Linked DNA regions of Homo sapiens: region 2 is linked to region 1. A link means that fine-mapping ties the variant in region 1 to the expression of a gene that starts in the linked region. Tissue or cell type: whole blood. Region 1 holds a variant in brackets; the other region holds the start of a gene. All regions are shown on one strand. Distances are between the middles of the regions. Region 1 overlaps LOC105369850 (a long non-coding RNA gene). Region 2 holds the start of OSBPL8 (oxysterol binding protein like 8).

Region 1 (16,169 bases):
CTATTTTACATGGAAAATTATCTTTACTTGAAAGAATGACAGACAGATAAACTATAGTTATTCAGACTTAGGTATGTGTCAGAACTTTTCTCAAAAATAAGTGATCCCGTCACTTCAAGGAAAACAACTCACAGCGTTTGTTGCCAATGATAACATTTGAGCTTTCAAACAAAATTTAGAATTTTTTAAAACTCATATCTACCTCTATGAATTTGGCAGCTTCTTGATTCTTCAAAAATTTTCTGATGAGATCAGTGGTGACAATAACACATGTGATTTTTTTGGGGTATTTCAACATGAAATCTGTCAGCACTTGGAAGATATGCATAACTCAATGAAGCACTATTTTCCAAATGACTAAATGCATGATGTTGCAAAATAGCGCATGGAATCTTAATCACAGAAAGTTCATCTCAATCTGTTGGTGCTAACTCCAAATGGACTGCTGCTACACAACCACCCTACTTAAGGGTATTCTTGAAGGGAAATTCTCTCAACTGCAGATCTGTAAGCAGTGTACCTGATCAACTACTTTCTATAAAGGAAGAAAAGGCCTGATGTATAGATGTACATGGACCTTTGAATGATGGCAATTGGCTTGGTTGGTTAGTCAGACAGGCCTAGAGGAGAAAGACTGGAAGATGGGAAATAAAAATATCCAAGGAATAAATGTATGGGTAGACCACTGGAGTAGGCTCAAAGTGTGCAGAAATTTGTGTGCTACCTCAATGCCTATCAGAGAGCCTATACTGCAGAGAAAGCACTAAACAACCAAGTAGACAGGACTTGTCTAGTAGAAATCATTCAGTCTCTCTTCTCAGCAATATCTGTGTTTACACAATGGGCCTATGATAATTACATGGCCATGGTGGCAGGGATAAAGGCTGTGAATGATCCAATAGCATGAACTCCCTCTCTCCTGGGCCACTGCTGCTTGTCCAGTCTATTAGCAGCAAAGATAAATGCTAAGTCTTCATTATGGCACCATCCCTTAAGAAGGCTAGTCAACCATTCAGTGGGAAATTGATTATATTGGACTCTTTCAACCCTGGAGGGGATAGCAAATTGTACTTATCAGAATTGATACCTATTATGGGTATGCATTTTTCTTCACTGTTGTAGGTACCTTTGTCAGCACCACCCACCGTACAAGAACTTACTGAATGCCTGATTTACTGGCATTGAATTCTACCTATTTTTTTATATCAAAGAGCCCATTTTATGATAAAATAGGTGTAATAATGGGGCATAAACATGAAATTGGCCATCCTAATGGAACAATAAAATAATCTAATAAAGACTTAGCCAAGGAACCCATGCAGGACTAACACTTCAAAAGGATAGGGTATTGTTCTCAAGAATAAGATAGGTGCATTAAATGTATAGCTGATGGCTGGGCACAGTGGCTCACGCCTGTAATTCTAGCACTTTGGGAGGCCAAGGCGGGCAGATCACCTGAGGTCAGGAGTTTGAGACCAGCCTGGCCAACATGGTGAAACCTTTTCTCTACTAAAAATACAAAAATTAGCTGGGTGCGGTGGCGTGTGCTTGTAATCCCAGCTACCCAGGAGGCTGAGGCAGGAGAATCGCTGGAACCCGGGAGGTGTAGGCTGCAGTGAGCTGAGATTGCACCACTGCACTCCGGCCTAAGTGACAGAGTGAGACTCCATCTCAAAAAAAAAAAAAAAAAAAAAAAAAGTATAGCTGATTTCTAGTGGTGTGTTTCCAATAGCCAGAATATACAGGTCCAGAAACCAAAGGGTGGTTGTAGGAATGGCTCTCACCAACACTCCCATTGACCCCTTTGCAGAATTTGGGCTTCCTATCTGTGCATTCTTAGGCTTTTCAGGATTAGAAGCACTTGTTTGGTATGAAGGGGACTTCTATGAGGGCACACATGAAGTCTCCATTGAACTGGAAACTATAACTATCACATGATCATTTTAGATCACTTGTGTCAGTGGACCATCAATGAAAACACTTACTATCTTGGTGGTGATAACTGACCTTGATTACCCATATGAAATAGAGTTGCTGCTACCCAATGGAGACAGGAAGTCCGATGCATGGAACACATAGGATTCACTGAGTTATTTCTTCGTGCTCCATGTCTGGTGATAAGTATAAATGGGTAATTGTAATAATTAAGACTCACTGAAGAGCAAGAATTAGAGTTCAGACCCTTCAGAGATGATGATCTGGTTGCCCCCACCCAGTCAAGCAACACAGACTCCCTGAAATGGTAGCCAGGATGAGACAAACTAGAATAATCTTTTTCACATCCTTTCAGCCTACCTTTTATACCAACTATTGCTATGGCAACCAGTTTTGTGCAACTGTACCACATATTTATCATTTCAAAACCTGTGCTGCTCTGATGATATGGCATGGATGCCAATGAGAACCCACTCTGCGCTTAGGCATGTACAACCTGGAAGAGTAAAGAAGTTAACACTCTCTGGGACAATCTTTGACTGCACTTGTAATCTATTGCTGGATAACAAGTTACCAAATCTAGCAGCCTAAAACAATAACATGTATTATATCCCAGTTTCTGTGGTCAAGAGTACAGACACAGCTTATTTGGATTTTCTGCTTCCAGGTCTCTCCAGGCTAGAGTCAATGCATCAGGTGGGCTGTGTTCTCATTGGGAAGCTCATCTGCTCCCAAGCTCATATGGTTTGCCGAACGAATTTATTTCATTGAGGATATAGGACTGAAAGCTTCAGTGTGCTGGTTGGCTGTCAGCTGGAGGATGCCATTAGCTCCTAGAGTCCATTCAAGTTGCCTGCCATGTGGTCTACTCCATAGGCAGCAACATAGCAGTTTGCTTCTTCATGGCCAGCAGAAGAGTCTACTAGCAATATGAAGTCTTACATAACATAATGTTATCATAGGAATGCCATTCTGTCACCTTTGCCATATTCTATAAGTTAGATGCTTCACAGATTCCTCCCATATTCATGGGATGTAATTAACAGGGGCATTGATATCAGAAAGTGGGGGTCATTGGAGAATCAGCCTAGGTTCTGTCTGCCAGTCTTTCCTCAGGCCCTCCCATATGAAATATATGGTTTCTCCCCTTCCAAGGTTCCTGTATTAGTCCGTTTTCACACTGCTGATAAAGACATACCTGAGACTGGGAAGAAAAAGAGGTTTAATTGGACTTACATGGCTGGGGAGGCCTCAGAATCATGCTGAGAGGTGAAAGGTACTTCTTACATGGCGGCGGCAAGAGAAAATGAAGAAGATGCAGAAGTGGAAACCCCTGATAAAACCCCTGATAAAACCATCAGATATCGTGAGACTTATTTGCTACCATGAGAACAGTATGGGGGAACCTCCCCCATAATTCAAATTATCTCCCACCAGGGCCCCTCCCACAACCCATGGGAATTGTGGGAGTACAATTCAAGATGAGATTTGGGTGGGGACACAGAGACAAACCATATCAGTTCCCAAGAGTTTCATTCATTATAGCATCAGCTCAAATTCTAAAATTTCATCATGTGAATCAAGTCCAGGTGCAGATGAGCCTCCTACGTATAACCTGTTAAGTAAAGCTCCTGGACACAATTATTCTCTAACTATGGACCTCTGAAACCAAGGAAATGAGTTATCTGCCTCCAACACACCCAACATACAATGGTGGGACAGACACAGGATAATAGCTATAGACATTCCAGTTTAAAAATAGGGGAAATGGGTAGTAAAAAGGAGTCACTAGTCTATAGCAGTTTTGAAATACAACTGGATTTATTGGAAGTTCCTTAATTAAGTTTCTAGGCTTGGGAATGATTCTTCATGGCTCTTGGCTCTGCTTTCTGGGTTCTTGGTTCCACCATCTGAGTCATTCTTCCTTTTTCATGGAAGGTAGCATGTGTTTGCAGATGAGTAGTTTTATCAGCCTGCTTTCTGCCAGTAAAATTTTGGAGGTCTGACAGCCTCTTTTCATTTTCTAGTCTTTCTGTCTGTCTTATTCCAAGTTGGCACTGTTTCTGCAGAAATAATTTTCTCAAGAATGTTGTGGTTCTTTCTGTATTTCAGTGGCATTCACTCTTATCAGACAAAGGCCACATCTACAGATTGTTTCAAAAATAATTCCATCTCCTTTAAGCTTCCTAGAGGCTCAATAGTGTGATTGAGAGGATCTGAGGCATACCCTTAGATCTTTTCAAATCTAAGGGCCGTATCTTGAAATACCCCTGAGTACTCTGACCTTTGATCTTTTGGGGGCTTTAAAAAAGATTATAGAGTAACTTCAAGTGCATTTTCTCTAGAGTAGGCTTTTCTGACAGTGCCCAAAAGCCATCTCCAACTGTTAATATTTTTTGCCATCTGGGGAAGATGAGGATTTTTTAAATTATCAAGTCCTGATTCCTTTTTGCTTAATAGTTCTTCTCTCAATTTGTCTCTTTTCTTGAATTTTCCTGTAAGTAGCAAGAAGAAACCAGTTGTCCCCTTCAACACTTTGCTTGGAAATCTCCTTAACTATATAACCAAATTCATCCATTTACAAGTTCTGCTTTCAACGTAATTGCAAGAAATAATTTCACTAAGCTTTACGCCAGTACATAACAAGGATCTCCCTTCTTCCAGTTTCCTATAGCATGTTCCTTACTTCCTTCTGAGTCCTCAACAGCAGTCTTCAATATCCACATTTCTACTGAGAGTTTGTTCGCAGTGATTTGGGATTTGTCTATCATACTTTTCAAGCATTCTTCTAGTCTCTGTCCACTGATCAGTTTCAAAGCCACAGACATATTTTTACATATTTATTACAGTAGCATTCTACCTCTAGGCACCAAAATCTCTATTAGTTTTCCAATTCGATGTAACAAATTAACACAAGTTGAACACATTAAAATAACACACATTTACTATCTCTCTTTCTGTAGGTCAGGAGTCCAGATACACCTTAGTTGGGTTTTCTACTTTGGGGTCTCTCCAGGCTACAGTGAAGGTGTTGGTTGGACCATGTTCCCATCTGAAAGCCTGAAGAAAGAAGAATCTTCTTCCAAACTCTCTCAAGTTGTTGGGAGAATTCATTTCCTTACAGTCACAGGACTGAGAGCTTCAAGATTTTGTTTTGTTTTGTTTCTGTTGGCTCTCAGCTTCTACAAGCCACCTCTGAGTTCTTTGCCACATGGTCCTCTCCGATAGGCAGTTCATAACATGACAACTTGTTTCTTCAAGACCAGCAGGAAAGTGAGAGAGTGAGTCGGCTATCAAGACAGATTCTTACATAATATAACATAATCATGGGAGTGATATCCCATCACATTTGTCATATATTGTAATGCATGTATTACATTACATCATGGGAGTAACATCCTATCACCTTTGCCTTATTCTTCTGGCTGGAAGCAGTTCACAAGTTCTACCCAGTCTTACGGTGAGGGGCATAAAGAAGGTCATTAATACCAGAAGGCAGAGATCATTGGGGGTTACCTTAGGATATGTCTGCCACATTGGGGGAAGGCAGACAATTCTAGGTAGCTATTCAAAGATCCAGAGAAATGAGCCTGAGTTACCTACAACAATGTTCAGATTGATTAATGTATTCTTGAGTTAGCTTTCCTTCCTTTCATGTCTTAATTTTCCTAGCCCCTCACTCCTATTCACTGGGATCTCTTCCCAAAATCAACTATCCGCACAGAAGTTATTGTCTCAGACTCCGATTTCAGGGAAGAAGCCAGGCTAAGATAGCAGAAGAGAATAAACTTGTATAAATGGTATGCTACAAGTTAGGAGGGATGGTAGGCAGGAGGTTCTCCTCCTCAGAAATTAATTACCCCCTACCCATATATTTCTCTACACTATAATGAGGCAGTGCTAAAAGTTCATGGAAGAAAGCATGCTAAAGGTGCTTTCTCTATGCAAATCTCAAGATACAGCATCTTAACTCTCTCTTTCATAAAATTAGAATTGGCCCAAGATACTAAATTGGGCTAGGCTGGCAAGTGGGGTTCAAGTAGTTTCCATTGTAGGGAGAGAAATTTAATAAGTGTAAACCTGGCAGAGCTCAAAAAAGAGCAACAGAAGTACTTGAATACAAGGGATAAAACTATTAAAGAACATTTTTCACAAATAAGCCTTGTTTCTTCAATTATCTCTATTTCCACCATGCCTGCCATCTCAAGTGATGACTATCACTCTGCTCTGGCCAAGTTATATGTCAAATCACAAAGGTGAAATGAGATGACTGTCAGGTCATATGTTTGAGGGGGAGGAATGGAATTACAAAGAAAGGGATACCATGACACTTGGAGAAAGAGTTATGAGGAAAGAAAACCAATGGGGTGCTTAAGAAAAGGGCTTGAGTCAGAGTCAGCTGGATACCATGTCTGACACAGTGAACTATGATAATCCTCACAAAACATTTCTAAAATGATTGCCTTAGGATTGCACTGGCTGCATGGCCAGGGTTCTCATTTCTCATTTCCTTTTCTTAGAATTAAGGTGATGCTCTTTGAAATGTCTAAAGATAGATGACTACCATTGGTAGTCAACCCTGAGGTTTTTTATGTACAGGCCCAGCACTGAGCTAAGTGTTTTGTATGCAATTGCACAACATCTTTATGAGGATAGATGCTATTATTATCTGTTTCTCTAAGCATGGG[G/A]AAACTGTTAACCTCAGGGTGTTGAGTAACTTGCCCAACATCATACAGCTAGTAAATAACAGAGCCAAGACCCAAGACCTAGGCCCGCATTTGCTGGCTTAAAAGTTTAAGCTTTTTGCTTTTTTTTTTTTTTTCCAGTGGTGCTATCTAAGCTTACTGCAACCTCTGTCTCCCAGGTTCAAGCAATTATTCTGCCTCAGCCTCCCAAGTAGTTGAGATTGCAGGCATGCACCCCCATGCCTGGCTAATTTTTAAATTTTTAGTAGAGATGGGGTCTCACCATGTTGGCCAGGCTGGTCTCGAACTCCTGAACTCAGGTGATCCATCTGCCTCAGTCTCCCAAAGTGCTGGGATTACAGGTGTGAGCCACCGTGCCTGGCCCCAAGGTTAAGCTTTTAACCACTGCATCACACTGCACCTCAGGTTTCAAGATAGGGAAACTCAATTTTTAAAAATATTTATAAAGCATTTACATTTTTTCCATATCTCATTTTATAAAGTGTCTTAGCTAGTAAGCTTAAAAATTATTTTCTTCGGCCAGGCATGGTGGCTCATGCCTGTAATCGCAGCACTTTGGGAGGCCGAGGCTAGCAGATCACCTGAGGTCAGGAGTTTGAGACCAGCCTGGCCAACATGATGAAACCCCATCTCTACTAAAAATACAAAATTAGCCAGGCATGTTGGCACGTGCCTGTAATCCCAGCTACTTGGGAGGCTGAGGCAGGAGAGTCACTTGAATCTGGGAGGCAGAGGTTGCAGTGAGCTGAGATCACGCCATTGCACTCCAGCCTGGACAAAAAGAGCGAAACTCTGTTTCAAAACAAAAATAAATAAATAAAATAAAATAATTTTCTTATCAAGAAAATGCAAATTAATCTGCAGTGACAGAGAGTGGATCAGTGGTAACTTGAGGATGGGAAAGTCCCAAGAGTGGCAGGAAGAAGAAATTACAAAATAGCATGAAGAAACTTTCGGGAATGAAAATCAAAATTTGTAAACATATTTATCACTGCCAAAAGTTAAAGAGTCTTGCTCAAGATTAGCCTGAGAGTTAGTAGCAGAGACAGGATAAAAATATAGTTTTTAAGCTTCTTGAACAAGTGTTTTTTTCCTCTCAATTTGGTAAATTATTTCCATATGGTTTTAAAAAGGATATGAAGAGACATAAAATATGACATGAGTATTATAGAAAGAAAATTGTGTTTAGGAATTTTGGGCAGCACTATTCACAATAGCAAAGACATGGAATCAGTCTAAATGCCCATCAATGGTAGACTGAATAAAGAAAATGTGGTACATAGACACCATGGAATACTATGCAGCCATAAAAAAGAATGAGATCATGTCTTTTGTGGGAACATGGATTGAGCTGGAGGCCATTAGCCTTACCAAACTAACACAGGAACAGAAAACCAAATACTGCATGTTCTCACTTATAAGTGAGAGCTAAATGATGAGAACTCATGGACACAAACAGGGGAAAAACAGACACTGGGGCCTACTTGAGGGTGGAGGGTGAGAGAAGAGAGAGGAGCAGAAAAAATAACTTCTGGGTACTAGGCTTAGTACCAGGGTAACGAAATAATCTGTAAAACAAACCCCCATGACATGAGTTTACCTATATAACAAACGTGCACATGTACTCCTCAACCTAAAACAAAAGTTAAAGAAGAAAGGGAGCCTGTGAAGCCCCTCAGTCACTCCTCCTACATCTCATCCTGTTCTCCCACTGATCTAGCTTAAAGTCTTCCTGCTGGAACATTTCACCCTATACCAGGTGGTGGGGAAAAAAATTTTTTTTATTAACTTACGTATCTCAATTGAGCATTGGAAGTCTATTGTGAATTCATCTGATGAAAAAGTTGAATGCATCTCTTCAGAAGTTTATCATTATCATCTGCAATCTACTGAGAACTTTTTAAAAAATGAATCCTGCAATTGTATGGCCAGCAGGGGGCAACTAAATACTTCCCAAAACAGCATCTTGTATAAGAGAACAAGTTAAAATTGGAGACTGTTAGCATTCTTAGCTGTGTAGGAGAGCTGACTTCCTTCTAAAATGATAATTAACACCTAGACACATTCTCACAATACTGAATTTGTGAAGATAATTGGAACAGTTTCCTAAGTGGACAGATTATAAAACCACATTCTGGGGCCTGTATGTGGCAGATTTGTTTTGGCTGTTTTTTCAGTCCACAAGGTTCCTTGCAAAAATTTATGTATTTTATGATGAATAGCTTTGTAAAACTTCTTGTATTATAGAAAATATAATGAATCTTGACTTATTTCTGTAGGTTATTTTAGAATTCTGCTATTTTTACTTAACATTCAAAGATAAAAGTAAATAGGGATTGCAGAGGATCTTGTTCTTAAAGTATAATAAAGAATCATTTCTTAGCCCTGTTTTATAGAACTAATTTTTAAGCTTGTTATATTAGTTAGGGTTGTCCAGAGAAACCAAACCAACAGAATGTGTATACATATAGATATTATAGATATAGATGTTTATTTTAAGGAATTGGCACACATGATTGTGGGGACTCAGTTTCTGCTTGAGTCCAAAGGCAACCTGCTGGCAGAATTCCTTCCTTCTCTGGGGAGGTCAGTCTTTGATTTATGAAGGCCTTCAACCGATTGATGAGGCCCGTCCATATTATGGAAAGTAATCTGCTTTACTTAAAATCCACTGGTTAAAATGTTAATCTCATCCAAAAACACCTTCACCAAAACATCCAGAATAACGTTTAACCAAATATCTGGGTACCACAGCCCAGCCAAGTTGTCAAATAAAATAACCATCACAGTTGCCTATTTCTTTACATCACAGTCTCAAAGTCGTAGGAGATCTATATGGTGAAATAGCTCAACCCTCCTCCAGATGCAGCTGCAATGCCTGGCAAAGAGAAAGCATTTAGCAAATATATGCTGATTTGAATTGAACTGAATGTATATGAATTGAATTAAATATCCCTAGTGGTGGCTAGGTTCTGCCAGGCTTCCAGTGCGGTGCTGGGAGGTAATGGAAGATAGAAGTTAGGCACAGGCTCTGGAGTCAGATAGGTCCATATGCTGAGGCTCCCCTACTTACCTTATATGTACCTTTGGATGAATAACTTAATTTTTCTAAGCCTACATTTCTTCACCTATATAAAAACAACAGTCATAATAGCTATTTATGCTACATATTGCTTTGTTAATCAATATTTACTTCTCTTTCCTTTCTGGCCACTCAGTGGATTGACTGTATTCCTCAGCGACCCTACAACTGAATGGAGCCATGTGACTTGGTCTGGCCAGTGAAAACTGTAGATTTTACGTGTGTCACCTTCAGGATGTGGCAGTAAAAGGTCGATATGAAATTTTTTTCTTTCCCGACTGTGGCAACCATGGAAAAAGATTCATCTTAAGATGGCAGCACCACAAGGTTGAAGCTGCCTGGATTATCACGTTGTTGCATGGAAGACAGTTGCCTGGAGAGTTGCCTGCAGCCAGAGCTAACTTTTTGTTAAACATTTGCTTTTTCTCCCAACTGCAGCACAACCTAGACTATTCTCATGTATTGTCTCACAGAGTTGTTTTGAGGATTCAATCAGATATTGTTTCGCAGGAAACTGCTCATTTGACAAGCCATAAGCACTCAAATGTTATAATTATGATATTTCTTTGCCTTGATCATTATAGCAATTCAAAACTCAAACAATAAAATTAGAGTACCAGGTAACTTTTGTTTAAAGTATTAGTATTCTAACTCTTTAAACTTCTCCTCTGAACACTGCCTTGCACACAGTAGGCATTCATAAATAAACAAAAAAAATTTTTTTTTTTTGAGACAGGGTCTCACTCTGTCACCCAGGCTTTAACATGGTGCTACAACCAAGGCTCACTTTAGCCTTGACCTCCTGGGCTCAAGCAATCCTCCTGTGTCGGACTCCCAAGATACTGGGATTACAGACATAAGCTGCCACACTTGGCTGCTGGGATATTTTATTCCCTTATTGTTAGACTGGCAAGATTTAAGTTTATTTCTTTTGCTAGACCTAGGTTCTCATAAAACAACTACTTTTGGTTAGAGTTACCTATTAAAAAATGTATTACTATCCTGTCATTAATGGGGCTTAGGCAGTGATAGCTGCTCACACATCTTAACTCTTCCCTGAATTCAGACCCAATTGATAGGAAGCCAAAAAGATAAAATACCAACTTCTCGGCTTGGCATGGTGGCTCATGACTATAAGCCCAGCACTTCAGAAGGCCGAGGTGGGAGAGTTGCTTGAGTCCAGGAGTTCAAGATCAGCCTAGCATAGGGAGACTCCATCTCTACAAAATGTTTGAAAAATTAGCCAGGCATGTGGCATATGTCTGTAGTCCCAGCTACTTGGGAGACTGAGGTAGGAGGATCGCTTGAGCCAAGGAGGTAGAGGCTGCAGTGAGCAGTGATATTATGCCATTGCACTCCAGCCTGGGTGACAGAGTGAGACTTCATTTCAAAAAAGCTTCCTAAGATAAAGCTGATTGGATGTATTATAATATACAACCATGACCAGGTTTTTCAATATTTCTTTTTTTTTTTTTTAGACGGAGTCTCACTCTGTCACCCAGGCTGGAGTGCAGTGGCGTGATCTCAGCTCACTGCAACCTCTGCCTCCTGGGTTCAAGCAATTCTCCTGCCTCAGCCTCCCGAGTAGCTGGGATTACAGGCACCTGCCACCATGCCCAGCTAATTTTTGTATTTTTGGTAGAGACGGGGTTTCACCATGTTGGCCAAGCTGGTCAAATACTTCCTAAGTCCAAATGGGTGATGACTCGCCACAGGAGAATTTGAGTCTGCACGATGGATAGACTTGTGTAGAATCACTGTTTCTGCTTGGTGAGATCAACAGTAGAAAGAATGAGAGTTAGGCCTCAGGCCTGTTCTAGAAGACAAGCATAGGCCCTAATCCGTGTGTTTTTAGTTTATGACATATATTGAGGAACTGAGCAGAATATAATTTCTTGTGGGTGGGAAGATTTGAAAAAGATGGCAAGAAATGGCTTGGGTTTTATGTTTTTCTCCCCAAATCACCAATTAAATACAAAACTCCTTCCACTTGGGGAAAGTGGCAGAAAGAAAGATGAAATTTCCTCTTGACTCTATAGTTCTGAAAGAAACATATTTCTATTTTAAGAGCCAGGTAGGAAAACTGTGAGGCAGAGAAGATGGTTCCTTTTAATATAAACAAATAAATTATTGTTCTTGTGGTCTGAATGTTTATGTTCCCCCAAAATTCAAATGTTGAACTCCTCACCTCCAAAATGATGGTATTGGGAGGCGGGGCATTTGGGATATTATTAGATTATAGGGTTATTTCCCTCATTAATAAGATTACTGCCATTATAAAATGGGCCTGAGAGAGAACCCTCAGCCCTTCCACCGTGTGAGGTTAGAATGAGAAGACAGCTGTCTATGAGGAAGTAGACCCTTACCAGACACTGCATCTGCCAGTATCGTATCTTAAACTTCTTAGCCTCTAGAGCTTTGAAAAATAAATCTCTGTTTTTTATAAGCCACTCACACTATGGTATTTTGTTATAGCAGCATGAATGGACTAAGATACTTGTGATATTCTTGTAAGTTTTTATGTTCTGAAGTTACCTTATAATTATATAAGAAATAGGGTTTTTATGATATACTAAAAATCAATTAATTAGTACAAAAATTAAAAGTATCAAGAAGAAGTCACATATGCTAACATTTTTAGTGATAATTTTTCCTAACTTCCTCCCTACTTTTTGCTGGTAATAAAGTTTTCCTAATTTTTACTCATAATAAACTAATCCACAGGAAACATTCAATAGCAAATCATGTATAAATACTTAGCATATACTATGTGCAAAATACTTTGCCAAATGAGGGGATACAGACATTTAAAAAAATCAGTCCTGATCTTACAGTCTAGGGAAAGAAACAGATTTCAAAAAATATATTTACAATATGGTGTGTTAAGCCATTCACAGTCCAATGAATGGACTATGACAAATTACCTGCTTAATATCCATTTTCTGCTTCTTCCTTAGTAACAGAAATCCAATTCAAGTTTGGATGACAACGTAAACTTAAAAATATCCTGTCTCTCTTGCAGCTAAGAGTGACCTTACAGATAGCACATTTCTTTTTAAAGAAGTAGAAATCTCCCAGGGATTTTGGAATAAGTTGTGTCAATTCAAGTTTCTTGATTTAGGCACTATCCTCCCTTTTATATTTAAAACATGTTTTGTGGCAAGAACACTTAACATGAGATCTACTCTCCTTTTTTTGAGACAGAGTCTCACTCTGTCACCCAGGCTGGAGTGCAGTGGCACGATCTCGGATCACTGCAACCTCTGCCTCCCAGGTTCAAGCAATTTTCCTGCCTCAGCCTCCCACATAGCTGGGACTACAAGCGCCTGCCACCACGCCCAGCTAATTATTGTGTTTTTAGTAGAGACGGGGTTTCACCATGTTGGTCAGCATGGTCTTGAACTCCTGACCTCGTGATCCACTAGCCTCGGCCTCCCAAAGTGCTGGGATTACAGGCATGAGCCACCGCGCCTGGCAGATTTACTCTTTTAACAAATTTTTTTTTTTTTTTTTTAGACGGAGTCTCGCTCTGTCACCCAGGCTGGAGTGCAGTGGCACAATCTCAGCTCACTGCAACCTCTGCCTCCCAGGTTCAAGAGATTCTCCTGCCTCAGCCTCCCAAGTAGCTGGGACTACAGGCACCTGGCATTTTTTTTGTATTTTTTAGTAGAGACGGGGTTTCACTGTGTTAGCCAGGATGGTCTCGATCTCCTAACCTCGTGATCTGCCCGCCTCAGCCTCCCAAAGTGCTGGGATTACAGGCGTGAGCCACTACACCTGGACTCTCTTAACAAATTTTTAAGAAAATAATACATTATTGAAATTGTACAATGTTGCACAGCAGATCTCTAGAGCTTATTTACCTTGCTTCACTGAAACTTTATGCCCATTAATTAGTAACTTCCGATTTCCTCCTTCCCCCAGCCCTTGGAAACTACCATTTCACTCATTGATTCTATGAATTTGATTATTTTAGATATCTCATAAAAGTGGAACCATGCAGTATTTATCTTCCTGTGACTAGCTTATTTCACTTAGCATGATGTCCTCAAGGTTCATCCATGTTGTCTCATATTGCAGAAATTCTTCTTTTTAAAGGCTGAATAGTATTCTATTGTATGTATTTGCCCACTTCATCCATTCATCTGTCAATGAACATTGAGTTTATTTCCACATTTTGGTTATTATGAATAGTGCTGCAATGAAAATAGGAGTACTAATATCTCTTTAAGATCTTGGTTCCAATTCTTTTGGACAAAGACCTAGAAGGGAGATTGCTGGATAAATGGTAGTTCTACTTTAAGTTTTTTGAGGAACATCCAGACTATTGTTTATTTTGCTTTTGTTGCCTGTGCATTTGGTGTCATATCCATAATATCACTGCCAAGACCAAAGTCATGAAGCTTTTAACGTTTTCTTCTAGGAGTTTTACTATTTTGAGTCTGATGTTTCTAATCTATTTTTATTTTTATTTTTTTAAGAGACTGGGTCTTTCTATGTTGCCCAGGCTGGTCTTGAATTCTTGGGCTCAATTGATCTTCCTGGCATAGCCTTATTTTTTTTTCTTTTTCTTTTTTTTTTTTTTTTTTTGAGACAGAGTTTCGTTCTTGTCGCCCAGGCTGGAGTGCAATGGCGCGATCTCGGCTCACCGCTACCTCTGCCTCCCGGGTACAAGTGATTCTCCTGCCTCAGCCTCCCGAGCAGCTGGGACTACAGGCATGCGCCACCACACCCAGCTAATTTTGTATTTTTTAGTAGAGACGGGGTTTCTCCATGTTGGTCAGGCTGGTCTCAAACTCCCGCCTCAGGTGATCTGCCCACCTCGGCCTCCAAAAGTGCTGGGATTACAGGCGTGAGCCACCGTGCCCAGCCTGCCATAGCCTTCTAAGAAGCTGAGATTATAGGCACCACCACTTAGACCACATTTGGAGTTTACTCTGTGGATGGCGTTAGATAAGGGTCCAATTTCTTTTCTCTCTTCTTTTTTTTTTTTTTGAGACGGAGTCTTGCTCTGTCACCAGGCTGGAGTGCAGTGGCGCCATCTCAGCTCACTGCAACCTCTGCCTCCTGGGTTCAAGCGATTCTCCTGTCTCAGCTTCCCAAGTAGCTGGGACTACAGGCATGCACCACCACACCCAGCTAATTTTTGTATTTTTAGTAGAGATGGGATTTCACCATGTTGGCCTGGTTGATCTCAATCTCCTGACCTTGTGATCCATCTGCCTCGGCCTCCCAAAGTGCTGGGATTACAGGTATAGGGTCCAATTTCATTCTCTGCATATAGATATCCAGTTTTCCCAGCACCATTTGTTTAGGATAACATCTATTCCCCATTGTGTTATCTTGGCACCCTTGTCAAAAACCTGTTGACTGGGCCAGGTACAGATGCCTGTAATCCCAGCATTTTGGAAAGCCAAGAAGAGAGGATCACTTGAGGCCAGGACTTTAAAATCAGTCTGAGCAACACAGTGAGACCCCATCTTCACAAAAAAATTTAAAAATTAGCTGGACCTGGTGACACATGCCTGTAATTATAGTTACTGGGGACGCTGAGGCAGAAGGATCCTTGAACTCAGGAGTTCGAGGCTGCAGTGAACCATTATTGTGCCACTGTACTCCAGCCTGAGCAACAGAGTCAGATTCTGTCTCTCAAAAAAAATTAAAAATAGACCAGGGACAATGGCTCATGCCTGTAATCCCAGCACTTTGGGAGGCTGAGGTGGGCAGATCACTTGAGGTCAGGAGTTCAAGACCAGCCTGGCCAACATAGCGAAATCCCATCTCTACTAAAAATACAAAAATTAGCTACGCGTAGTGGCGTGCACTTGTAATCCCAGCTACTCGAGAGGCTGAGGCAGAAGAATCACTTGAACCTGGGAGGCAGAGTTTGCAATGAACCAAGATTGTGCCACTGCACTCCAGCCTAAGTGACAGAGTGAAACTCTGTCTCAAAAAAATTAATTAATTAATTAAAAATAAATAAAGATGGCCAGGCACGGTGGCTCACACCTGTAATCCCAGCACTTTGGGAGGCCGAGGCAGGTGGATCACGAGGTCAGGAGATTGAGACCATCCTGGCTAACACGGTGAAACCCCATCTCTACTAAAAATACAAACAAAAATTAGCCGGGCATGTTGGCAGGCACCTGTAGTCTCAGCTACTCGGGAGACTGAGGCAGGAGAATGGTGTGTTGACTGTGTATGTGTGAATTTATTTTGAGGCTCTCTATCCTGTCCCATTGGTTTATGTTTATCTTTATGCCAGTACCTACTGTATTAATTACTGTAGCTTTGTAATATATTTTGAAATCAGAAAATGTAGTGCCTCCAGTTTTGTTCTTTCTCAAGATTGATTTGGTTATTTGTGGTCTTTTATAGCTCCATATGAATTTTAGAATTATTTATTCTATTTTTATTTTAAAATGCCACTGGGATTTTGATAGGAA
Region 2 (16,169 bases), 27 kb after region 1:
ACAATTAAGGGAATGAGACTGGGAGTCTGGTCTCAGCTGTGCATGTAAGAATACCAGACAAAAGTAAGGCTCCCATAGAAATGGACTGGAAACAACTAGGGGAGAATATCAACAGGGCCTAGAACAGAGGAATGAACGTGACAGGAATGTAGTGGACAGACTTTATTGGAATATAGGGTAGGCGCCTTCTTTTTCCACCATATCACTTCTGGGTACCAGTGTTCTGTAGAGGTAAAAGAGGCACTAAATACCTGGGAGATCTGGCAAAAGACATCTAGGTAGTACCTGTGGTTGGGAGGATTGAGTAGATGGTTGCTACCTGATAATGCGGTAAGAATATACGGCACCTTCACTCCCAGAACAGTAACAATGAGTTTTGAAATACTGCTGGTTTATAGGGTGAGGACTCTTGTTAGCTTTACACTCATTTCAGGAAAGAGGTAGAACAACATACAGATACTTGATAATTTTTTTTTGTAAGTAAGTGTAGGACCCAGTACAAACTGATAACTTATTAAATTGAAAGAATTAATATACAACCTGGTTTATGAAAATTTAATTACTGTGACTTCTCAAGAGTTTCATATACTTGTATAAATACAGGCTGGACAAAGCTAACTGGAATAATCTTGTAATTAGCTAGCAATCTAGTAGCTAATAGGAATACTAGTAATGTATACACTTTTACATATATTAAGAGATATAAATAAAAGTCATTTGGACAGTCTTCTATAAAATTATAGATTTGGTTTTATCAAGAAAATATTCTAGGGTGTGGTGGTTCATGCCTGTAATCCCAGTGACTCAGGAGGCTGAGGAGGGAGATCACTTGAACCCAGGAGTTCGAGGCTGTAATGCACGCCACTGCACTTCAGCCTGGGTGACAGAGTGAGACCCTGATTCTAAAACAAAAACAAAGTAGTATATAAGTAAATATACTTTGAATGATCTCGTGGTTGAGGGGAAAAAAGAGAAAGGTTCTGGTTTAAAAAAAGTAAGGTATAATTCATTTGCATTATACTTACAGATTTGGAAATCTAAGGGATTATGTGTTCTAAGCTTCCCATGTTTAAATAGTCATGATAAACTTAAAAAAAAAACACTCTCCTAAAATTGAAATGAAAAACACATTTACAATTGGAAATTTGTAGTCTAAGTAGCTATCAGAAATGGGTTCTTATTATTATTAGAATTTATTTTGAATTTAGGATGTCCTCTGAATTGAGTTAAAACTCAGTAGTCAATCCTTATACCTGCGCACAAATTTCTAGCTATTTCCCAAGATGGTGTTAAAAGTCATAGCATGCACATAATTTTGAATAGGCAACGTGGGTGGAAAGGGTAGGCAGAGCATTTCAATAAGACTTAATTGTCTTTAACCTGTGAATACATAATTATATAATTTGTTATGATGAACTTTCATTTATAGACTTCTATGGAGGGAATCATTAATACTTCATAGTTAAGTGAAAATAGTATATAATTCTGCTTTTTATTACTCTAAATCATGATCTCCTAAATATATGCTACTTTCTTAGTCTAATTATGTAATACATCATCTTCACTGGTACATTATGTAAATTTGAAATAAGAATGTCATTGTGAAGAAAAACACTTAAAATGCTGTTATTTAAAAAGAGAATACCAATAATATATTAATACAATTTGCCTCTATGGATGAGAAAAGAAGAAATGTATCATGTTTTTGCTTTTAAAATAAAAGGTATGTATCAGATGGAGATAATAGTACTAGTTTGTAAAATACTTTGTCTAATGAGGTCTAATAGTAGGCATAAAATGCAAATTTGGTTGGGTCTATTTCTAATGTTAGATATGTGATTTTTTTTTCTTTAAAAAAACTTATTAAAATAATTTTAACAATACTTACTGTTTGTTTGCATTGTCAATTGTATTTAGATTTAGGCAAATATCTACCACTCTTAATGCTCTTCGTTTATTATCAACTCTCAGACCTTCCATTTGAGTTGATTTTCTTCTTCTTCTTCTTTTTTTTTTTTTTGAGACAGGATCTCTCTCTATTACCCAGGCTGGAGTATAATGGTGTGATCATGTCTCACTGCAGCCTTGATCTCCCGGGCTCAAGCAGTCCTCCTACCTCAGCCTCCCGGGTCAGGACCACAGGCACACATTACCATGCCCAGCTAACTTTTAAATTTTTTGTAGAGATAAAATCTCAATATGTTGTCCAGGCTGGTCTCAAACTCCTGTGATCCTCCTGCCTCAGCCTCCCAAAGTGCTGTGATTTACAGGCGTGAGCCACTGTGCCTGGCCTGGGATCATTTTCTTTTTGTCTGAAAAAAGAAATTTCTTTAGACTTTCCTTTAGCGAGACTCTATTAGCGGCAAATTCTGCTTTTGCTTGCCGGAAAATTCCTTTATTTTGGCCTCATTCTTGAAATAATTTTTTCACTGGGTACTGAATTCTAGGCTGACAGTCATTTTCTTTTAGTCCACTGAAGATATTATTCCACTGTCTTCTGTTTTTCACTGGTTCTGATGAAAAGTCATTTACCTGACACTTTGAAGATTAACTATATTTTTTCTTTGTTGCTTTTAAGGTTTTCTTTTTTGTTTTTGGTGTTCTACAGTTTCACTGTGATATATCTCAGCGTGGTTTTATTATTCTTTAACTTGCTTGGGATTTGGGAGGCTTCTTAAGTCTGTGAGTTGGAGTCTTTCATCAGTTCTGGAAAGTTCACAACCATTATCTTGTCAAATACTGCCTCTGGCCCACTGGCTCTTTCCTTTTCATCTGAAGTCATAATTAGATTTTAGAGCTGTTTACAATGTCCTCCATGTCACTTAAAGTCTCTTTTATATTTTTAATTTATGTTTTCTTTTTTTATTGCATTTAACTTCATCTTTATCTTCCATTTCATTGGCTTGTATTTCTGCTGTGTCAAATGAACTACTAAATTTGTCCACTGAGTTTTTATTCTAATCATTTATGTTTTTCAACTCTTTTAGTTCTATTTGCTTTTTTCAAAATCTTCATTCCTACTTTAGTTTTTTGTTCTCTGCACATATTTTCAAACTTGTCTTTTATTCCTTTACTCATATTTAATATTGTTATTTACAGTCTGTGACCCCTTTTTTTTTTTTTTTTGAGGTGGAGTCTCACTGTCGCCCAGGCCGGAGTGCAGTGGCGCGATCTTGGCTCACTGCAACCTTCACCTCCCGGGTTCAAGCGATTCTCCTGCCTCAGCCTTCCCAGTAGCTGGGATTACAGGCGAAATTTTTGTATTTTTAGTAGAGATGGGGGTTTAACCATGTTGGCTAGGCTGGGCTCAAACACCTGACCTCAAGTGATCTGCCTGCCTTGACCTTCCAAAGTGCTGGGATTACAGGCATGAGCCACCACACCTGGCCCAGTCCGTGACTTGTAAATCCAGGATCTGAAGTCTTTTAAAATTTGTTTGTGCTGTCTTAAGTCTGTACTGTTTCTCACGAATGGTGTCTTATTCTGTGCTTGTTATTTTTTTTTAAATGTGAGCTGCTCATTTTCCTTAAAATTTTATTTATAGTCATTCTTTATGGCTTAAGATGAAGGTGGGTTCCTCCAGAGAGGATTGGTATTTGCTTCTGCCAGGTTTCTGAGAGCATTATCAGTCAAAAATTCATAATTACGCCTAGGTACAGTGGCTCATGCCTATAATCCCAGCACTTTGGGAGGCGGAGGTGGGCGGATTACCCGAGGTCAGGAGTTCGAGACCAGCCTAGCCAACATGGTGAAACCCCTGTCTCTACTAAAAATAAAAAAATTAGCTGGGCGTGGTGGCACGTGCCTGTAGTCCCAGCTACTCGGGAGGGTGAGGCAGGAGAATTGCTTGAACCTGGGAGGCGGAGGTTGCAGTGAGCTGAGATCATGCCACTGCACTCCAGCCAGGGCGACAGAGAATCCCTGTCTAAAAAAAAAAAAAAAAAAAAATCTTAATTATTAGCCTGAAGTTTTTGGGGACCACCCAGCTAGTATGAATTCAAGCTACGTTTTTGTGTGAGAATTGGATTGCAGTTCCAAATTCTCAGATACGATTTTGCTTTTCCCCTGTCCACCAGGTGCCAAGGTTTAAGACGGCTAATTTTCTTTGTAGATTCTGGGGGATGGGTGCCTATGCTAGTAAGCAGCAAGTTTATTTCTAGTATATCCTTACATCAAATTAATAATCCTTGGAATTGCAGTTGTTTGTGTGTGTGTGTGTGTGTGTGTGTGTGTGTGTGTGTGTATAATGCAGGTAATGGGTTTTGTGTCTTTCTTACAAGGTCACGAAAACCAATGCTCCTAGTAACTGGGTTTAGCACATGCCCTTGAGATAAAAGTTGGCTGACTCTGCTAAACTCTAGGTTCCTGCCTTCATTTAGTTTTTTAACTTAATAATTTCTTACCCTATTGTCAGTTAATCAATATATTTAATAAGATTTAAAAAATGTTTTTTCCAGGGATTTTGTTTTCAGTGTGACAAGTGTGAACTAGTCCTTGATATTTCTAGAAACAGAATCCTATATTCTCTTTATACTTTACTATCCAAATTTTCCTCAAGGGATATTTAAGACAAATAATACTAAACAGAAATATTTAAAATCAGTATGTAAATATCTTACATGCAAACATTTTGCATGCAAATTTACAGATTTTATAAAGACTGCTTCTTAACATAAATTTTAGGTGGATATTTACCAAATAGCTGGTTGACTAGTTTGTAGATGTCTGTTATTTATTTTATTAAATAGACAAATATTATTGTTCCACAGTACATTTAGCCTTTGACTCATGAGTTTGTTGGCTCAAATTCACTTTAGATGATTTGCAAGATTATGCTACGCAACAAACAATCTCAAAAATATTTGTGATTCACAACAACAAATATTTTTGTTTTACTCTTGTTTCACATCAGTAGCCGTATGTCAGGAGCTGCAAGTCAGTTGCTTCAGTTCTGTACAGGGTGAGAGTTTCAGGTCTGCTCCATCTATTTTCTTATTCTGAGATCTTATCTGGAACATACCTTTCTCATGGCAGGTGGCACAAGAGTAAGAGATTGACCTGAATTTTGCAATCAAATTTAAAGCCTCTGCTTTGATTTAGCATTTAACATCTGCTCACAAAGCACTGGCTAAAGCAAATCACATGACCAACAAGAATACAAGTCTTCAAAGCTGTGTTGAATACCTTATTTATGGCTGAGGTTGCTCTTAATCTAAATTCTCTTCCAGAAAATGAGGATTTTAGTCTAGAATCCTGATTAGTAATTGTCAGCAACATAATTGTCTAATGGGATAAGCCAAATGGAAAAAAGCAAACAACCTCAAGCAACATCTCTGTCATTCTAGGTCAGGGTTGAAATATACTGTGGGAAAGGCTGTCAAGCCTGTCAGTGCTTAAACTAATTTGGAAAGAACTTCCCATTCTTAGAAATGTATAATTAATAAAGCAGTAGGCAAAAGAGATGAATTCTCATTGGAGTTAAAATCGGATCGTTATAATAAAAAAGCTTTATTTCAAAATGTCATTCTTAAAATCATTGTAAGAGTAGCAAACTTGCAGGGCATCTCTGGGAGTTACTGAATATTTTTCAGTTACAGTGCAGGATCACATATTAGTTTCTGTTTATGTTGTCATTACATTGAAAATGCTAGATTGAATTATCATTCCTGGAATCACAATATCAGATTTGAAAGGATCTGAAAAAATGATTTTTCAACTGTAGTGGATTAATATATTTTTGTGTTGCAATCAGTTGTTAAGTATGTCAAAATCATTAGTTATTCATGACAAGTAACTATTATACTAGTGATAATCAAAGTAGAGAAGATTGTGAAAGATATACTTACATTTGTTTTGCAATATCTTCACTTTCAATTACTTGCATTAGGACTTTCTTTTTTTTGAGTGGAGCTGAAAGAAGTTAAACGTAGGCTGTCAGTAATTTGCATAATCCTGAGTATACCGTGTCTGTTTGTTTCCAATGTGATTGCCATCCACCGGGAAAAAAAAAAGGTGGTTTAGTATCATTTCTCAAACAGCATGTGGTCCTACTTGATTGGAACTTGAAATGCAGGGAGTAATTTATCTAGTCATACATCTCATTAGCTAAGTCTGTAACCTAGGCTTCCTTGCTTCCAGTACATTGCTTTTTCCAACAAATGATCAAATTTTCAAAAGCCAATGTATGAAATTGGGGCTGAGGCAGAAGAGAATTAGGCAAGGCAATTTGCCACCTTTTTCTAATCTTTAGTCTCAGTTTCCAAAGTAAAATAAAAGTACCAGAAAAACGGGGTCCAGATGGTGTATTTTGCATATTATCTATGCTCTAGGAACATTCTTTTCCAAATCTATTTGATTGCAACTCACAGTAAGAAATTGTTTAAATCACAACATAGGACATACTCTCACCTTCCACCATATTTGAAACAAAAAGTTTCAGGAAGCAATTTTTGCCCTTACTAGACATTATGCACTCTGGTATTTTATATTGTATTACATCCTAGCCTATTTCATATAAAAATGAAATTGATTTTTGAGTTGCAGGTTGAAAAACATGCCTCTAGAAAACAGGAGACAAGTTAATCTGTTAACAAACTCCAAAGTTACTAGCTTTGCTGAAATAATGTCACAGAATAATAAACTTCCTTCACATTTATTTGTACTACAGTCTCTCAGGCTTCAGAACAGAACCTGGTAGAATCTTTTCCTCTTTGGAACACCAGTTCATGACAATATCTCAGAGATTCTAAGACTCGTTGTTTCCCAGTTCATGACAATATCTCAGAGATTCTAAGACTCGTTGTTTCCCAGTTCATGACAATATCTCAGAGATTCTAAGACTCGTTGTTTCTGACATGTTTACATCTCTGAATTCAAGATGTGTCTCAGGCCGGGCGCGGTGGCTCATGCCTGTAATCCCAGCATTTTGGGAGGTCGAGGCGGGTGAATCATTTGAGGTCACGAGTTCAACACCAGCCTTGCCAAAATGGTGAAACCTCCTCTCTACTAAAAATACAAAAATTAGCTGGGCATGGTGGCGCATGCCTGTAATCTCAGCTCCTTGGGAGGCTAAGGGAGGAGAATCGCTTGAACCGGGAGGCGGAAATTGCAGTGGGCCGAGATTGCGCCTCTGCACTCCAGTCTGGGAGACAGAGTGAGACCCTGTCTCAAAAAAAAAAGGAAAAAGATGTGGCTTAAAGGTGCCTTACATATCAGCGGTATGGCATAGTTTCATTGGCAGCCTTTGTTTTCTTTCTTGGGTAACATAAAACAATGTAAGTCTATGATTTTTTTAGAGCTGCTATGAAATATATTAATAATAATTATATAGGCCAAACTCTATTGCTTATTCATTTCAATGTATCCAGCTTATCAGAATGCCTTCTGATTTCTTGTTAAGAAAATGTAATGAGATGAGAATAGCTTAAGAAAAAAATCCTTAGTTCTGGGCTACAAGGGAAAATGAGTTATGACCCCAATTTAATTATTACAGAAAGCTTTCTCATTTGCCTTCATTGTGATCAGGGTTTGAGTATGATCTTTATTCTACCTCCCTTACTTCTGTATAGTTAGGATTTCATTAGGCGGCTAGAGGGTTCTTCGGATCATGGCTAAAAAAGAAAGCAAAAGGTTAAGTCCTAGAGTTAAGGAATTAGGAAAAAAAAATTAAGGCATTAGAAAAAAAATCAAGAATTAGGCTTTATTTTAAAAAATGGAACAAACTGTCAAATTCCTGCGTACCCGTTTAAACTGTCACCAACCTAACACACTGTAAAACTTAATGACTGTAAAACTGGCAGCAGGATCCTGAACATAACAAGGAACAAAAATAAGTTTGCTAGGCTGTTTTCATCCCAGCATGATTGAAATACACCGTTTCCTCAAAAAAAAAAAAACCTCTAATGAGGAAAGCAGTAAATTAAATGCCACGGTTAATGTGCCACTAGAAATAGGAACAAGTAGTTTAGTTACCGAATGCTTCTTAGGCCATACACTCTACACCACGATGCGTTCTTTTTTCTGTTTCGCTAAAGCTTTCACCAAGCCTAAGGCTGGAGAGGGGTCCTAACTGAGCCCTGACCAGACCAGGGAGCCCTACTGTGCAATCTCCTCAGGTTAGGAAGGGCCCAGTATGACCGGCCCAGAAGGCCTGGCCGATCAACAGGCGCTGGGCCGACGGTGGTGGGCTCGCTTCCTGAGGCTGCCCTTGGGCATGCGGAAGGGGACTGGCTGGCGATAACACCCTGGCGAAGCAAGGTGGACAGTGACTCCCGCCCGGTTCGAGCCCGCCTAGCAGGGGAAGCAACTCCACCACCGCCTCCGCGCACCGTCACGTGACGGGAAGAGGGCGTGGCCGAAGCCCGTGATCCGGGGGGCGGGCGGGGCAGGGGGAGGGCACTAGAATGTGAAGGATCTTCGCGGTTCTGGGTGCCCAGAAAGGCGGCGACGCGGCGGATGACAACATTAGGCCGCGACGCGCTCCTGGCCAGGCGGCGGCTGTAGTGTTAGCTTTGGACGCCGCAGTAGCCGCTGCCGGTAGCAAGCCGACTGAGGGAAGGTGGGGGTCCGCCCGGGCTGGTGGACCTCGGGGCCGAAAGTTCCCGCCCCGCTCGGGGGCTGAGCCGGCAGTGCCTCCGCGGCCGCTGGGCAGCGCCCTTCGTCCAGGCTCGCGCCCCAGCTGCCGCCGACGACAGCGGCCGAGAGAAGTTGGGGTCTGACTAGACGCTTACGGGGCCTCGGACCCCGGCGCCGCGGCGACCTCGGAGGAACCGGCTCCTTGCGTCCCGCCTCCCTGGGAGCTCCGCACGGGTGAGTGTTGCTCCATTCCTGAGGTTGGGGTGCTGGGTTCGCACCCCTCAGGGCGACTGCGCACCCTTATTGCCACGTTCTGAGCTCGGGCTGTCGGGGACTCCTGGCCACCCCCGCCGAGGAGTTCTTTGGCTCCTTTGTTCCCTTTTGGAGTAGGGGGATTGGAAAGGCTGGCAGGGTGGAGTGTTTAGGGGCCCACAGTAGGTGCATCTGCAGCCTTACAAAAGCCGCGGCAGGGGAACGGGGGTGGGAGGCTGTTGGAGCATTTCGACCGCCCCGGGTGTCTGTCCCTCCTGAAGTTTGATAGGTTGATGGCATGGGCCTCGTTGGGAGCCCCCGCGCCCAGGAGAGCTGGCGCTTTGTCGCTCGGTGCGGTTAAGGCGAGGCTCCTTCTTTCCTGTGACAGCCCCAGAGAAGGCTGTGCCGCGCACCGCAGACCGCACCCGCCTTTGCAGAGCCAAGCGACACGGTGTTGTTCCTCTAAGCCTCAGTTCTCCCGGCCTTCTTGTAACGTAGGAGGAAAGCCAAGCCTTTGCTGTGCTTTTAAATTTAATGTTTGTTTCTAAGCCCTCTCTCAAGAGTGGAATCAGGTTCCAAGGAGCTTCACAGGCAGCATGCTTTAGGTTCATTGAACCACCCACTCAAGACTGGCTGAGGCGAAGCAACAGTATATGCAGATTTTCCATTCACAAAAGTCATTTAACACTCTTCTTTATGAGACACATCTGCGTTGCAGAACGTAACCTAATTTCATTTTATTTAAATGCTTTCTGAAATAATAGGTAACTTGGACAACGTAAACAGATGGGTAAACTTTAACTGATAATGTAAGTATATATGCATTAAATAAAAAATTTAATGATGTTTTTGCCTTTCTGCTGCTAGAAGACTTAAATGACGTCTGAGTAGTAATACAGTGTCTCCTGCATGGCAGTTAAGTTTTTCCCAAAATTAGTGCTGCTTTTGAAATAATCCTTTAAAACAGTTTTTGCCTCCCTTCGTATCTAGAGAGAGCAAGAATTGTGGAGAATCGTGGGTGAATTGATTGTTAAATTTTGCTAATTTCCTAGAGTTTCATCTAAACTTGATTTTGCTGAGAGGCTATGATCAGTTTCTATGCTTGCTAGAACCTGTTTTGCAGTGAAATTATTAAGATCATGCTAGTTTTATAAAATAGGTTGGAATAGGAAAAGTAAGGCCATGCAATTTAAAACTGTTCTCTATAAAAGTACAACTAATTTCAAATGTTTGTTACTTTTATTTTTTTTTAATATTAACCGTGTATGGAGTGACTATAATATACCTGCTCAAAGGGCTGAGAAAGGAAATAGATGAAACTTAAGCTACCTTTTGGGTCTTTAATTATGGACATCAAGTTATTGCGGTCACATTCCATGTCAACCGTTTGAACAGCAATACCGTGTACACAGGTGCTTAGAAATGCCTGTTTAATTAAAAATGGCCATGGTTTATTTCTCTTTGATTGAATCATAATAGTTATTGAATCTCTGATCTGTGGAAAGATGCTACTGTATTTTCCTTAGAATGTTACTGCATTTTAAAGACAGTCAAATATGTTTTTTATAACACATTCAGGGTACTTATACATTTGTCAATATTCAGTTCCTTGGTTCATTTAAAAATTGGAAGCCTTAGAAAACACTTTGGGGATAAATTTACAATTGTGTATAATGAATTTATGTTTTAGTTTGCTTTAAGAAAAATGATGAAATTATGAATTTGTAAAATATGCATTACAAAAGGATTTTTTTTTTTTTTTTTTTTAAGACTGTCTCACTCTGTATCCCAGGCTGGAGTGCAGTGGTGCAACTTGGCTCACTGCAGCTTCTGCCACCTGGGTTCAAGAGATTCTTATGCTTCAGCCTCCTGAGTAGCTGGGATTACAGGTGCGTGCCACCATGCCAGGCTAATTTTTGTATTTTTATTAGAGATGGGGTTTCACCATGTTGGCCAGGCTGGTCTCCAACTCCTGGCCTCAAGATCCGCCCGCCTCAGCCTCCCAAAGTGCTGGGATTACAGTCATGAGCCACTGTGTCTGGCGGATCTTTTGTTTAAAAGTATGAATTGCAGAATTTTAACCAGTGTTAGTACATTTCAACTTGGCTTTGGTTTGTAAATAATCCTTCAAAAGTAGATTACTTGAATTAAGGCATTAAAGACAAAGAATTGATACAGTACATAGATCTAGTTTTCTAATATTAATTTGGAAAACTTTTATCCTAATATTATCCTAATAACAATGCCTGAAATGTCATGTTGTAATGTTTGTATTATATTGAAAGTTAAAAACATTTATAGCAATGTTCTTGGAGCATCAGGCAATTCAAAGAGGACATAGGTCCTGCCTTAATCTTACAAATAATGACCTGCAAATAAGACAGAAACACAACTTGAATAAAAAAGCCTTTGAGAGGCCAGGCCCGGTGGCTCACGCCTGTAATGCTAGCACTTTGGGAGGCTGAGGTGGGCAGATCATGAGGTCAGAAGTTCAAGACCCGCCTGGCCAACATGGTGAAACCCCGTCTCTACTAAAAATACAAAAAAATTAGCTGGGCGTGGCAGTGTGTGCCTGTAATCCCAGCTACTTGGGAGGCTGAGGCAGGAGAATCGCATGAACCCAGGAGACAGAGATTGCAACGAGCCAAGATCATGCCATTGCACTCCAGCCTGGGCGATAGAGCAAGACTCAGTCTCAAAAAACACCAAAAAAACAAAAAGCCTCTGAGAAATATACAATTTTTAGTGAAGGTGGCTGGGTACAAGGAGATTAGTAGAAGTGCTTGACTGGAGCAGTTGTGGCCAAAGTATAGCTTCCTTGTGATGAGACACAGGAAGAGATGTCTAGACTCATGTTGTGTGCATATTTCATGGCAGTATGTGGGAAACCCCTGAGAGATTTTAGATCTTTCTTCCCACCTTGGTCCCCATCCCTCACATATCCTCACAAAGTCATAAAATTCTCATGTGGAAGGCGTGATAGAAGGAATTTTTCTTCCTGAAAAGTGTTATCAAGCTTGCAAGGGAGAGAGCTATTTTCGGAGACCTTATAGGGAAGAAATCCTAGTCCTAGAGCATCATATTCTTATACCCTGTTATTTTTACCTTTGTCGAAGATCCAGATAATGTAAATTCTCCATGATAGCAAGGACCTTGTCTGTTTTGCTCACCATTGAATCTCCAAATGTTCAATAGTTAATGAATGAAAAAAGTCTACTTCCAGATATATGACTGGAGAACAAAAGGAGTATCTGATAATGTAGTCCAAACTAAATGCAAGCAGCGAAATGATAAAGGAAGGATGTTAGCTTGGGAGAAGGGGAACAGGTCATTTAATCTGGGAAACTTTCTTGGAGGAGGTGATTCTTGAGTTAGGTTTTGGTGTGGGCTGTGTGTCTGAAGATAAGCAGTGTCTAAGGGGGTAGACAACGTGCAGCAAAGCATTTAAGTCAGACTGAATAAATTATGTCAGATAAAGCACAGTAAGTCTTTTTTTGTAACATTATGAAGAATTTTTATTCTCCCATCTCTATTTTCACCTCTCCCTAAATAAAAAGATTAACTTGCTTTGCAACAGCAGAGATTGACAGTACTTGAGTTTTGGAAGTACGATAAGGGTCAGAAAATTTGAATTGGTGTTCTGACTGAATCTTATACAAGCGTCGTTTCCATCGGCCAATCACTTGGTCTTAGTTTTCTCATTTGTAAAATCAGGATAATAATCCATGATCGTTGGGAGAACAAAGTTATATAATGCATGTGAAAGTGCATACCTCAATATGAATGTGCCTACCTCAATGTGTCACACATAGGAGGACTTCAGCAAATACAAAATTATTAAAACGTTTGTCTGCAGATCTTTAAAACATATTTTGATTCGTTTATCATGAACTCTAATATTTGCTTGACTCATCTAGATGACTCATGGCATTATGTTTAAATTGATCAGAATCAAAATTCTAGATAATTTTCTTTCAGTCAGTTTAATGTTTTCTGGTAGAAATGAGGCCTAATTGTATTACTGCTTAATGTTACAGACCACAAGGAGTGCTAGAAGCCTCAAATTTTTGAAGCTCAAAGTAAGGGATATGTGTAGCTGAAAATCTGAGCCTTTAAGCTTTTTTTCTCTACGTAATTTGTTTTTGAAGAAATTGTCTTTGCCTGTAATGTCATTTATCTATTCATTGTTGTGATGAAATAAGGGGTTTTCTGGTTGTTAAGAAAAAATTTACCAAAAATATTTTCTGTTTTTAGTGATGTGACTATAAGCCATGAAGATCTCTACCATCTGTGTTTTATTATAAAATTCAGTATTTCTTGAGCAAACAAACAGACATCTGCATTATTTCTTATCTAAGCTTTTTGTGCCAGTAGCTGTTCATTTATGAATCTCAGAATTTCATTATACTTTGTGAACTCTTTGTAGTGTTTTTGATCCATGGAGCAGTCTGTCCTTTGTATAATATTTGGAAGAGAATTTTATTATAAAAAGACTAAGAAGAGTCTTGAGCCTTTTTATTATACAAAGACTAAGAAGAGTCATCAAATGATAAGCCAGTTACCTACTAATTTCCATATTCAAAAAGGACTGAAAAAAAGAGGAAATGGTTTCAGAGCTTGACTTTTTTCAAATAAAAAGGAGAAGCTTTTTGATTTAGAGTTTTTGAAAACTTGATAGATTCAGAGGGAAATTGTTATAGGTCATATTAATAGCTAATGTGCGTCAACTGCTATATACCAGGTACTGTACTACTCTAGAAGTACTTGACATGTCATCACATTTGATCCTGACAACCACCCCGCAATCAGGCTATTTTCTTTTTTTTAAACCTGAGCAACTGACAGATTAAATAAGTGGTGGAGCCAGGATTTGAACTAAACCTGAGGCACAGAGAAGTTAAGTAGTAGGTGGTAGAGCCTACTAAAAGGATTTAAACTTGAGGTTTAACCTGACCTTTGACTTTGGAGCCTATCCTTTTAACCATCATATTATATACTGCCTTGTATAATTTATTTGCAGTTGCTCCTCTTGATACGTCTTGACCTTGTGATCTTCCTGAGTCTGTTTTAGTTGTGTCATTTACAAAATGCACTTTACTTTATAAGAAGATGGAATATAGCCTTGATTTTTTTTCTCTCATTTTACTTGTATTTGACTGACATCCTATTTTTAAATCTTAAAAATACTTAGAGTAAAGCAAATATTTATTTTATTGTTCATCCAGTTGCCATTTTCTCACTGGGGAATTTCAGAGAATTTCGGAGTAACTGGAAATTAAAGAACATAATAGATAACAGTATTTAAAGCTAAGTTGTTATAATTAAAAAATAGTTTTAAAGAATAAGGCTGATTCACAGAATTGGTATGCATTTTTTTTTAGTGTTTTTTTTTTTTTTTTTTTGAGATAGAGTCTCACTGTGTCACCTAGGCTGGAGTGCAGTAGTGTGATCTTGGCTCACTGCAACCTCTGCCTCCCGGTTTCAAGTGATTCTCATGCCTGAGCCTCCTGAGTAGCTGGGATTACGGGTGCATGCCACCATGCCCAGCTAATTTTTTGTATTTTTAGTAGAGATGGGGTTTCACCATATTGGCCAGGCTGTTCTCGAACTCCTGACGTAAAGTGATCCACCTGCCTCGTCCTCCCAAAGTGTTGAGATTACAGGCGTGAGCTACCTCCTCTGGCCTTTTTTTTTTTTCTTCTGATACAGGGTCTTGAGCTGTCACCTAGGCTGGAGTGCAGTGGCACTCACTACCATGGCTCACTGCAGCCTCGACCTCCCAGGCTCAAGTGATCCTCCTGTCTCTGCCTCCCAAGTAGCTGGGACTACAGGCGAATACCATCACACCTGGCTAATTTTTAAGTTTTTTTTTTTTTTTTTAGAAACAGAGTCTCACTATGTTGCCCAGCTTGGTCTTGAACCCCTAGCCTCAAATGATTCTCCCACCTTGGTCTCCCAAAGTGCTGGGATTATAGATGTGAGCTGCCATGCCAGGCCTATTTAGTGATATTTGAGGGACACAGATCTGTACAGTTGAAATCTGTCCTGTTGAGATGACCACCAGTAAGGTAATTTTTGCTTTTTGGCTGCCAAATGCCTACATATTAGCAGGAATAGTTTGTCAGATTACATAATTTTTTACAAGGAAGGCTGGGGCCCATGTGGAAATTATGGAATCTATGTTGGTATATTTTGATGGGATGGAAGTATGGTAGATCTGGAGAGAGAGAAGTTCAATCTAAGTAACATTATTACCGGGTAGAGTAATGAGGTGGGGTGCTTTGGATGTGAGGGCACAGGTACATTGTTCAAGTGGAGAGTAGGATGAGGGACTTCTGGAGACTAGCTTTGCTTAGTGTGTAATTTTGTGCATTGTTATGATTATAATAACTTGTAAGATCAGCAATTTGGAAGTAAAGAAAAGCAGTGCTGTGCATCATAGTGTGGAGTTTGTAATAGTTCTAGGCTGTTTTGCAAGATGTAGGTGCTTTACAAATATCCATTGGTAGTAATGGAAGTGCTCTGTCTTATCACCTATTTTAGAAATCTGGAGAGGCAGAATAGCACGAACCCTGGAGCCAGACTGCCAAAGTTCAGAACTGGTACAGCCACTTACTAGCCTATTGCACTGGCCCTATGCTGACTTGGGGTGGCCAAAAGGGAAGAAAATGGCATATTTAAGCAGAGAGGGGGCCAGAGATAGCACTCTGTGAGTTTTCCATGGTTCTTACATGGTCTGAAAGAGATCTGGATGTTCTCACATATGACTAGTGAAGGAAATAGAAGTTAGTAGAGTGAGAGCCAGGAAGCCTGTCATTAGGCTGCTATTGTGAGGGAGGGACCATGTAGTAGACAGAGGTTGTGGGAAGGGCAGATTCATTTCATTGCCCACAAAAATTTGTGCTCCCTCTTGCTTGCAACATTTTTTTTTTTTTTTTTTTTTTTTTTTTGGAGACATGGGGTATCGCTCTGTTGCTCAGGCCAGAGTGCAGTGGCAGGATCTTGGCTCACTGCAACCTTCGCCTCCTGGGCTCAAGTGATTCTTGTGCCTTAGCCTTCCGAGTAGCTGGTACTACAGGGATGTGCCACCGTGCCTGGCAAATTTTTTGTATTTTTGGTAGAGATGGGGTTTCACCATGTTGCCCAGGCTGGTCTCTAACTGCTGAGTTCAAGCGATCTGCCCGCCTCAGCCTCCCAAAGTGCTGGCATTACAGGTGTGAGCCACTGTGCCTGCCACTAGTTTTTCACTAGTGAATGTGAATAGAAATCAATTTGTTGTCACTTCTGGGTTGAAGTGGCAGAAAAAATAGGTATTCTTTCTTCACCTTCTCTTTTCTAATTCA

What was found. PIP is the estimated chance that this variant, and not a neighbour inherited with it, causes the effect.
Region 2: OSBPL8 starts here. The variant in region 1 is fine-mapped to the expression of OSBPL8 in whole blood (TOPMed, PIP above 0.99).

What each region holds. Positions count from the first base shown.
Region 1 is chr12:76,579,401-76,595,569 of GRCh38, reverse strand. All of the region lies in intron 3 of LOC105369850 (a long non-coding RNA gene), which reads right to left. Among named protein-coding and RNA genes, the nearest start is that of OSBPL8, 28 kb to the right of the region's middle. RefSeq lists silencers at 6,215-6,415, 11,365-11,565. The variant G/A (reference allele first, on the strand shown) is at 6,624.
Region 2 is chr12:76,552,036-76,568,204 of GRCh38, reverse strand. It overlaps OSBPL8 (oxysterol binding protein like 8), which reads left to right and starts at 8,434. Exons shown (of 24, transcript NM_020841.5): 1 at 8,434-8,808. It overlaps LOC105369850 (a long non-coding RNA gene), which reads right to left and starts at 8,303. Exons shown (of 4, transcript NR_188081.1): 1 at 7,972-8,303; 2 at 5,847-5,910. RefSeq lists a silencer at 8,604-8,793 and an enhancer at 9,204-9,513.